2 separate regions of the Homo sapiens genome follow, and region 2 is linked to region 1. The links come from fine-mapping of genetic effects on gene expression. A gene starts in region 1. The other region holds a variant in brackets. All regions are shown on one strand. Distances are from middle to middle.

Region 1 (5,385 bases):
CAAAGCTGTTATTTCTCTATTTTAAAAATTTATTTACGGCAGCAATAAATGAAAGCCTATCATATCTCTCTAGTTTTCCAATAGGTATCCAGTAAGTAGGAAATCAAATTAAGAAGGTAGTTCTTTAGCAGACTGGTAACAAAGCATCAAGCTTTAGTAAGCTTTAATCCAAACTTACTGACCATAAAACCATCTTTTACTTTGCTAAGCCATCACAGTTTTGTTAGCATTACTTACAAGCCATATTCACTCTTACTATTTACTATCATTTTATTAGTGGGTAAAGTCATTGAATACTGCAAGCAAGAGAGGAATGGTGTGTCCTAACACTTAGGGTAAGGAGATCAAGCCTAGGGAAAAGACTCTCTGAGAATACCCTGAGGAGCAATTTGACATCCTTGTGGTGGAAGTTTATTGAATCAGTTCCCAACTTCAGCCCAGTCAACTGTGAAGGGTCAGCATCACTCTTAACTTCCAATTGGAAATGTACTTGATGGACTTATAACTTAATTCTATGAGTGTATTATATTTACTAGGTGTCTTATAATTTTTAATTATGGGAAGAGAGGGGGTGACATACTACGAAGGGATTGAAAGAGCTAAAAGGCTTAGTCAAAAATTACATGTAATTTTTGCTGTATGTCACATACCATAAAGTTAACACGGGTGGACAGTGAGTATAGCAAATCGTTTCAACTGTTCTTTGCTGGTGTTTGGAGATGGTTAAATGTTTACACAAATATTTCCTCTCTCCACCAACTCTTTCCCCATTCCCTAATGCTCACTTCCACTTCTGTTTTTTAACTTTTGGAGTTCCTTGATCTGCATAAACATTCTACCAACTCAGCCCAAGGCAACTTTGAATTTTATGGTTACATTGCTAATTTTATCTTTATCTGAAAACCTTTGGCACAGATTTTGTCTTAAAGCACGTTTTGTCTTAAATAAGTCAACAGGATTGCTAACGTAAGGTCAGGTGCTAATCCCAGCATTTTGGGAGGCAGAAGTGGGAGGATCACTTGAGGCCAGGAGTTTGAGCCCAGCCTGGGCAATATGGTGAGACTCTGTTTCTACTAAAAATACAAAAATTAGCCGGGCTCACGCCTGTAGTCCCAGATACTTGGTGGCTGAGGCACAGAATTGCTTGAATCTGGGAGGTGACCCAGGATCGCGCCACTGCACTCCAGCCTGGCGTACAAAGCGAGATCCTGTCTCAAACAAACAAAAAGAAAAAAGAAATAAAAAAGACAGCTAATGTAGTATTAATTTGAAATGAGGGGGATCTGCCTGTCCAGTATTCAAATCCCAGTAACCTCTGGATGAATTACTTGCCATTTCTAGTTCTTGTCGCTTAATTTTAAGATGGAAATTTCTACGTTGAAGTTTTAGAGAGGTTGTTGAGAGAACAGAGACGATACAAGTCCATGCTTAGAATACTCAGTACATAGCAAAATAATAAATATTTTCCCTCTGCCCTCTCTCTTTTCTTGGAAAGCCAGGTAAGCAATGAGAAGTTGGTTTATGGCCAGGTGTGGTGGTTCACGCCTGCAAATCCCAGCACTTTGGGAGACCAAGGTGGGAGGATCCCTTGAGCTCAGGAGTTCGAGATCTGCTTGGGCCACATAGCAAGACCTCGTCTCCACAAAAAATTAAGATTACCTGGGCGTGGCACATTCCTGTAGTCCCAGCTACGGGAGGCTGAGTTGGGAGGATCACTTTAGCCTAGGAGGTCGAGGCTGCAGTGAGCTGTGATGGCACCACTGCACTCCAGCCTGGGTGACAGCCCTGTCAAAAACAAAACAAAACAAAAATTGCTGACGTATGCACAGTTAAAGCAAAAAGAGTTGGGATCCTTGAATGACGTTCATGTCTGTTCTGGCAAAGCCGGGATTGTTGGTCCCCCAAACTTCTTTAAAGAAGTTTACTCCTGGTAGCTCGATTAAGTATCTTTGTCCCATGGCCGTGGGGAATAAAAAGTTCAGTTGTCACCCCCTTTTTAAACTAAATGTCCGAAGAGACAAGGCAATCCCATCCTCTCTTCACACATTTGTGCAGGTGCAGCTTTATTTCCCACCGTGCGGTCCCAGGAGGCCGCCTGGTCTTCTGCGCTCACTTCCTAGGCATCCCTGGCCGCCCCTCGGCAGCCTCTCCTTCTGGCCTGAGACTTCCAGCTGAGCCTCATCCCCTCCACCTGAAAACTGCTCCATGGGGCACTTCATCTACCTGGAAAGTTCTCGATTTCCAACTGGAGCCTGTATACTGCTGGTTGTGTCTCAGCAGTTATTACAGCTCTGGGCTTACAACGGGAGCTTAGCAAAAGTTCCACCCTGGCTTCCTAGACTGCTACAGCTCCAAGAAAAATCCTGTGCGCACAAACGGCCGCCGCCTTTGGCGTCTCCCGCGGATTAGACCAGTTAGGAGGTCTCAGTAGGCTTTTAGGCAGGACAAGTTTTACGCCTGGCCAAATAAGGGTCAGACTAAGCAAGGCGCCTCCGTGCGCCTAGCCAGAGCGGTGCCGGCTGCGGAACCTGCCCCGCCGGGAGCCTAGTGCCATGCAGCAGCGGCGGCGGTGGCGGCTTCCCAAGCGCGGCGGCAAATCCGGGCCCGCCCGGAAGTGCCCGGCGCTGTAGGAGGGAGCAAGGGCCCAGGAGCCGCCGCCGCCGCCGCCGCGCGCACGCGCCCTCGCGGGCTGGAGCCGGGGCTGGAGTCGTAACTCGGAAGCCGGAGCCCAGACGGGCCCGCGGCGGGGGGGTGGGGGCTGCGCGGGGGCGGGAGTGGCGGAGGTGGCCGCCCCTGGCGGCGGGTTTGTTTATCCCGGGGAAGAAGTTTAGGAGCGGGAGATAGGGAAGGAGGGCGGGTCGGGGAGGAGGGATGCGGTTCGGCGGAGGCGGCCGCCACAGGGACTTGCCGCCATCACCCCTGCTGCCACCACCGCAGCCTCGGGCTCCCAGGGCGGACACGGCCACCGCCTCAGCGGGAGAGGAGTCTCCACCAGGACTGACCGCTGCCGCCCAGCACGTCCAGGTAGGCGCCCCTTCCCCTCCCCCCAGTCCCCGCGGCAGCCCCAGGCGCTTGCTCCCCTCCCCCGGCTCTCCGTAGACCGGCGGCCTCCTGCTCGCGCCTCACTGCGCCCTCTGCTCTCTGGGTCCCGGACCCCTGCTCGGGCGGCGAGCTCCGGCCTGCTCTGGGGACTACCTCCCACGCCCCCGGACCGCCCTTCCCTCGCGCGGCGGCACCACTTTCCCCGGGGTTGCCCCCAATCCCTCCTTGATTTCCCAGCCTCCACCTTCCAGGATCCCCTTTAGTTTTACCCCCGGGCCTCGCCCCTTCTTTTCCTCTGGCTTCTCTCCTCCTCTATACCTGTATACCTCCACACCTGCCCCTTTTTACCTGAGTGCTGCCCAAAGGCAGAAACTGCATGCTCTGCCACCGCGCAGCGTCCACTTTCATACCTCCTCATCCCAAATACAGACACTTGAAACTCTCGTCCCTGTTAGCCCATTTTAGGCAGAGTTCTCAGCTTCGCAGACCGCTCACTACCTCCAGTCCGGTGGTCATGCCTTTAACCTCTCTTTAACCTGCTTTCTAATACATTTTTGCTCACTTATACCAGAGTACATCAAGCTAACCGCGCGGTTCGGGGTCCAAGTCTTCAAAGAGCCCACTTGTATTCCTGCTGCTCTCCTTTTTCCTAATTCTTTTTGAGTCAATGTATTTGTATATTGATTCAACATAAAAGAAAAGGGAAGGTAGCATTTTCTCTCTCAAAGCAGTCACACAACCCAGTAGAAATAAGATTCACCATCTGCTTATCCTAACTTTCGCTTGTCTCTTTCCTGACTGAACTCTGTCATTCAGTGATTCTTTCCAGGCTTCTGATGCTTTGTCTATTTTTGAATAATCTTGGGCCTAGTTTGACCCATTGTGGTACTCACTTTCCCACTTGCAATTGAATCCACTGTTTCTTGGACTAGAAACTGACAGAGGTAAAAGGTTCATACCTTGAAAAATTACATCTCTCCTGCCACGATGAGATTGGTGGAATATTTCAAATTACCATTTCATCATTCTTGTGAGAAATGTTGCCTAGTGGTTAAGAACTCTTCTCTAGAGCTCAGACTAGTATATAGTTGCCAGGGTGTAAACCCTTGCTCTGCCATCTACCAGCTTTGGCTTTGGGGAAGTTACTTAATATTTCTTCGCCTCAGTATACTTACAGCTGTAAAATGGGGTTATGATATGACATCACAGGATGGTGCTAGTAATTGCACAAGTAAATACAAGTAAAGTACTTAAAACAGTACCTGGCACAGGGCAAATATCTGATAAATGCTATCATCACTTCTTGGTTTGACTTGATCTGGCTTGTGGGTAGATTAATTCTAAGACAGGAAGGTGGGAATGGAAAGCTACTTTCTTATTCTTTGACATTTAACAACCTTTTTTGATATAGATAGCATGTATAATTTGTTATTGTATAAATTAATTCCTTCTGATTTGAAAACTACAGGGTTTTAGCCCACCATTTTCAAGGCAGCTAACTACCAAGCTACAGATAGGTCAGTCCTTATTTCAGATGTCTATTTGGAACTTCTACAATTTTACCTTTGTTTTGAGAATAAACAAAGTGAAAGTACTGTGTATAACAGATTCATCATACTGGAAAATGAGATTTTACAGATAAAAGTTTTAGTACTGTAAGTTAAATACTCAAAACTGGTGGTATTCTTCATACTCATCTGACCTTTATCTTCAATCACTACTCGAGATAGAGCTTTGGCTTGTCTTCCTTCAGAAGACTGGTGGCCGTTTTCTCTTAATGTGTTATGTTCATTCATATTCACATGTCTTCTTGGCTTGGTGTTTACAGAATTTTACTCACTTTAAAAAATGCTGACAGTTTTTGCCGTATTTGCTTACCTCTTGTGCACTGTTGCTTACTTATTACATTTTTAAAGGACTCACATTAAAAGATCTGAATAGATATTACTTTTGTGTTGTTTTAAATAGTAAAAGTTTGAAATCACTATTTGCTGTCCTAATTACATGTAAAAATATGTACATATGTAACTATCAAAATAAAAATGTTTTTCCATTTATAGTTTAAAATCATTCTTGTGCCACCATGGAACATGTTCCATACTTGGGGGTGACACTGTTTTTGGTAATGCTGTTCCCTGACCTAGAATAACCTTTGCTCTTTCTCCTGTATATCCAGGTTCTACCTGATTTTCATCTCTCACTGCTTCCACATAGTTCCTTCCAACATTTAGTTTCTTGGCTTTCCTAATGTCTATATCTGCATTTTTGGCCATGAATTTATATAAACAGGGCAGGTTGAAGAAAAATAACTCCCCTAGAATCAGACTTTTAAAGCTTATAGAA
Region 2 (5,385 bases), 34 kb after region 1:
CAGGCTTATCTCCCCTGCCCATCTGTACCATCAACTGTCACCAGTAAAGTTTTACTTACTGTTTCTACTCCAGTACTCACTTTGTGCTAAGGGTGTGTATATGTATAAAATTTCCTATTATCCACTCAGCAACCATAGGGCAATGAGGTGCTATAATAATTTAATAAACAAAGGAGAGGCCCAGTATCTATAAGATCACAGAATTCATGGCAAAGCACTGATTCACATTGGTCTCAGTATATAGCTCTTGTTATTAAAGTCTATGCTATTGTTTGTGGTCTTTCTATAATCTTGTTTGCTTCCTATAGAATACAGCTCAGGGAATATCTTCAGGACATTTTCTGTGTCCTGAAGTGCTTCATTATCACTGTTACAGTACTCTCTCATATTATCATATTCAAAATATCTCCGTGTCTGTATCCTCTACTATGTTATAGTTTTTGCCAAGAGTAGGGAATGTGTTTTATTTATCTTCATACCCCAGGTTTCGTTAGAGTGCATGATATATCTAAGCATATAATAAATGTTCATTGTATTTCCCTAAAGTCATCGTATACTTAATTTGAATAGATTTAAGAAATTTATATGTGTATTACTATTTTATCACCTTTATAAACACTTATTAGAATCTTAATTATTCTCCCTGGTACAGTCTTAGCAAAACTGTTGAACATTATATGTTATATATTATATTAACTCTTTTTCATCATATATATAAAGTTGTTTTGACCTCAGGCAGTATTTTGTTATAACATCCTGAAGCAGTTCAGAGGACTTTTAGCATAAATATGGTAGTATTTCAAAATTGTAATTTACCATTTGTTAATTGTAGAATTAATAAACAAAAATACTGTATGTATAATTAAACCACAATTGATTAAGCTACCTCCTAGAAGATGAATGAGCTGATTGCAGATGACAATGAAAGACGTAGCTCATAAACATCAGTCTCATTTTATAACTGGATAAAATTTTGATAATGCTCTTTAGACAGCATGATTTTTTTTAACCCTACTTTGCTGGATAATTTATATATTTTATTGGTCTAGAAGCTTGATAGCTAACACACTTGATATACTGCAAAATTGAAGACATTTTTTAAAGAAACAATAGTTTTTCCTTTGGGTGATTAAAAATAACGATTAGTACTTTATTCTCTAATAGTGGCTAATATAGACTCAATAGTTATAGAAGGTGTTTTATAGAGTTGACCCTCTGTATCCACCGATTCTGCATCTGAGGATTCAACCAACTGTGGATCAAAAATATATGGGAAAAAAAATTAACAATACAACAATTTAAAAAATCTAATAAAACAGCACAGTATAACAACTATTTACATAGCATTTACATTGTATTAGGTGTTAAGTAATCTAGAGATGATCTAAAGATACCAGAGGATATGTGTATATCAAATGCAGATATTATACCATTTTGTATAAGGGACTGGAACATCTGTGAATTTTGGTATCCATGGGAGTCCTGGAATCAGTCTCCCATGGAAACAAAGGGACAACTTTGATTACTTTTTAATCACAAAAGAAATGTGTATATATGTGCATATGGACTTCTATGTGCAGGTATTTTTTTTAAATGAGGCAAAATTCATATAACATAAAATCTATCATTTTTACTTTTTTAAAAAGTACAGTTCCGTAATGGCTTAGTACATTGACAGTGTTGTGCAACTAGCACCTCTGTCTAGTTCCAGAACACTTTTATCAGTCCCAGAGGAAACTCCATAACCAATTACTTACCATTTCCCCCTCCCCACAGGTCTGGCAACTACTAATCTGCTTTTTGTATGTATGGATCTGCCCAATATTTAAAACAAGTGAAATGATACAATGTGGCCTTTTGTGCCTATCTTCTTTCACTTAGCATAATGTTTTCAAGATTCATTCATGTTGTAACATGCATCAATACTTTATTTATTTTTATGACTACATATTATTTCATTGTGTGACCAGGCTTAATGGCTCACACCTGTAATCTCAGCACTTTGGGAGGCTGAGCTGGAAGGATCTCTTGAGCCCAGGAGTTCAGGACCAAACTGAGCAACAGTGAGATCTTGTGTCTATAAGAAATAAAATTACCCAGGTGTGGGCAGTGAGCTGTGATTGCATCACTGTATTTCAGCCTGAGTGGCAGAGCAAGACACTGTTTAAAAAAAGGAAAATTCATTGTGTACATGTACCACATTTTAAAAATTCATTTATTGCTTGATGAACATTTGGATTGTCCATCAATGAATGGATTATTAGCTAGTAACCTTTTGGCTATTGTGAATACTGCAGCAAAGAACATTTATGTTTCAGTCATTTGAACACCTGTTTCCAGTTCTTTTGGATATATACCTAGGAGTAGAATAGCTGGATCATGTGGTAATTCTATGTTTAATTTTTTGAGGAATCCTTAAACTGTTTTCCACAGCGGTTAAACCATTATACATCTCCACAAGCAATGTCCAAGGATTCCAGTTTCTCTACATCCTCGTCAATGCAGGTGATTCCCCACTCCTTTTTTTTTTTTTAATAGCCATTCTAGTAGCTTTTTTTTTTTTTTTTTTGGTCTTTTTCAGCATTTTTACTGTGATCCATGTGTTTGTGGGTTTCTTTGCATTTAACCTACTTGGAGTTGATTGAGCTCCTTAAATGTGTATATTATTGCTTTTCAATAAATTTGAGAAGTTTTCAGCCATTTTTTTTAGTTATCTTTTTCTGCTGCTTCTGTCTTTCTTCTCCTTCTGATACTCCCATTATATACATGTCAGTGTGCTTAAAATAATGTCCTACAGTTCTCTGAAGATGTTCATTTTTCTTCATATTTTTCTGTCTGGATTGTATAATCTCTACTGATTTGTCTGTAAGTTCACTAATTCTTCTATTTGTTCATATCTACTGTTGACCTCCTCTAGTGAATTTTCATTTCAGTTATATGGTTCAGCTCCAGAATTTTTATTTGGTTCTTTTAAAAAAAATAACCTTTACCTTTTTGTTGACATTCTTTATTTTTTTTGTGTGACATTGTCATCA[T/C]ACCTTCCTCTAATTATGATTTCCTTTAGTTCTTTACACATACTTATTAATGGCTATTTGGAATGCTTTGTCTGTTAAATCCAACATGTAAGTTTAATCACAGTTTCTGTTATCTGTTTTTTTCCCCAGCATATGGGTCATACTTTCTGTTTTTTCATGCCTCGTAATTTTCTATTCAAAGCTGGATATTTTATGTAGTAAATTGAGAAATTCTTGGAACTGGTTTCTTCCTTCCAGTGCATGCTGTTGCTTCTTGCTTATTTTGTTTATGGACTGTTTTAGTGGAGTCTATTTAGTGCCCCCCCCCCACACACACACACACGCACACAGTGTTAAGCCTCTGATGTTGCACCTCTGGGGAAGCAGCCTTGGGTATTCCCAGTTACCCTGGGTGATGGTGGTTTGGCAGGGCTTTCTTTTTGCCTGACTACTCACATCTGTTAAGGTCCATTAATCTAGTGCTAATTGCACTGTTTTCAACAATGCCCTGGGGCATTATGTTGTTCTGCAGACTCATCAACTTTGGTTTCCTTTGAAGAAATAGTTCCCTAAGTCAGTGCCTGAAATTTCTTCCGAATCCAGGTGGGCTCCTCTCAGCTGTGTCTTTTCCTGTTTTTTTTTGGGCAAATCAGCTGTCCTGTAGTTTAGCCTTTGTATCCATTGATTCCTCCAGTCTCTTCTCATTTGCCTCTCACAGCCTCTACTGTTTTTCAGATCATGCTTGCCTGTTTCCTTGCAAATGAACTTCTTTTCTCTGGGAAGAGATTAAAAGCAGTCTGCTTTATGGTCCACTTCTTTCCACAGGCAAACATCTCCAAGCCCAGGCTCTGGAGTAAGGAGGAAGGAACAATGGTATTTCTTTCCCAGTGTATCTCTACTGTAGGAGCTGTGCTGGAGGGAGGCAGTAGCCTCAGTTCTTCTTATCTTCACGCTCTTTGTATGGAACCCACAGTTTACAAGCCAAGACAGCAGTGATTGGTACCCTGACAGCACCATGCCCAAAGTAGAGCCTCCACCTTTCCGGCAGTGACAGATTTGAAGAAGGGAGCCAGCCCCTTACCTCTTGGTTTCATTCACCTGTAACATCAGCATTAAGTAGCTAGAGGTGTAGCAGCATGAGCCAAACAAACAAACAAAACCCCTCAGACACCGAGTTGAGGAAGGAAAGGACTTTATTCGGCTGGGAGCATCGGCAGACTTACATCTCAAACAACCGAGCTCCCTGAGTGAGCAATTTCTGTCCCTTTTAAGGGCTTATGACTCTTAAGGGTGTCCACGTGAGAGGGTCATGATCGATTGAGCAAGCAGGGGATACATGATTGGGGGCTGCATGCACCGGTAATCAGAACGGAACAGAACAGTACGGGGATTTTCACAATGCTTTTCCATACAGTGTCTGGAATCTATAGATAACACAAGCAGTTCAGTCATGGGTTGATTTTTAACTACCAGGCCCAGGGCGTGGCATCGGGCTGTCTGCCTGTGGATTTCATTTCTGCCTTTTAGTTTTTACTTCTTTTTTCTTTGGAGGCAGAAATTGGGCACAAGACAATATGAAGGGTGGTCTTCTCCCTTAGAGGCAGGATGAGAAATGTTGACATCCTTCCTGTCACAGGAGGACATTGACTGGACCTGTTGGAAGAGGGAACACAGTGCTTATGGCTACACCAGTCTAGAGTGGAGTTTCTGACTCCTTGAGTTAGGACAGAGCAGCTCCTGGTTCAAAGACCACAGACTCTCACTTTTCTCATAGTCTCTACTAAATTTTCTTGAATAAATGTTTCTTCATTTGTTCTGTGCTTCCAGCAGTGTTTTTATATTTTTCACCAAATTTTCTGGGGAGTATGTCCATGGAACTCCTCAAGTTGTCACGCTGAAAGTTTTTTTCATTAGTGGTTCAGTCTCTGCTGGTTATGGGGGTCTGTTCACATTTTCGGTTTCCTCTTGAGTCAGTTTTGGTAGTTCCACATTTGTGAATTTTAAAATTTTTTCTTCTGTTACTGATTTATAGTTTCATTCAACTGCAATCAGAGAGGATACTTTGTATAATTTAAATTTTTTTAAATTCGTCGAGACTTGTTTTGTGGCCTCGGTAGCATATGGTCTGTCCTTGAGAACATTCCATATGCACTTGAGAAGAATGTGTGTTCCACTGTTGATGAGTGAAATGGCTGTTAGGTCTAGTTATTTTATACTGCTGTTCAAGTCTTCTATCTCTTTATTGATCTTCCTCGTTCTCTGCATCATTGAATGTTGGGTATTTCTGTCTCCAGCTATTATTGTAGAATTGTCTATTCTCTCTTTAATTCTGTTAGTTTTTGCTTGATATCGTTTGGGGCTCTATTATTTG

Evidence for each region.
Region 2: its variant is fine-mapped to the expression of SPOPL in blood mononuclear cells (TOPMed, PIP 0.98).

Annotation. Positions count from the first base shown.
Region 1 is chr2:138,499,096-138,504,480 of GRCh38, forward strand. It overlaps SPOPL (speckle type BTB/POZ protein like), which reads left to right and starts at 2,675. Exons shown (of 11, transcript NM_001001664.3): 1 at 2,675-3,024. It overlaps SPOPL-DT (SPOPL divergent transcript), which reads right to left and starts at 2,600. Exons shown (of 2, transcript NR_187149.1): 1 at 2,224-2,600; 2 at 1-1,785. RefSeq lists silencers at 2,571-3,110, 3,311-3,360.
Region 2 is chr2:138,533,005-138,538,389 of GRCh38, forward strand. The region is part of intron 1 of SPOPL (speckle type BTB/POZ protein like); the gene reads left to right. Among named protein-coding and RNA genes, the nearest start is that of SPOPL, 34 kb to the left of the region's middle. The variant T/C (reference allele first, on the strand shown) is at 3,036.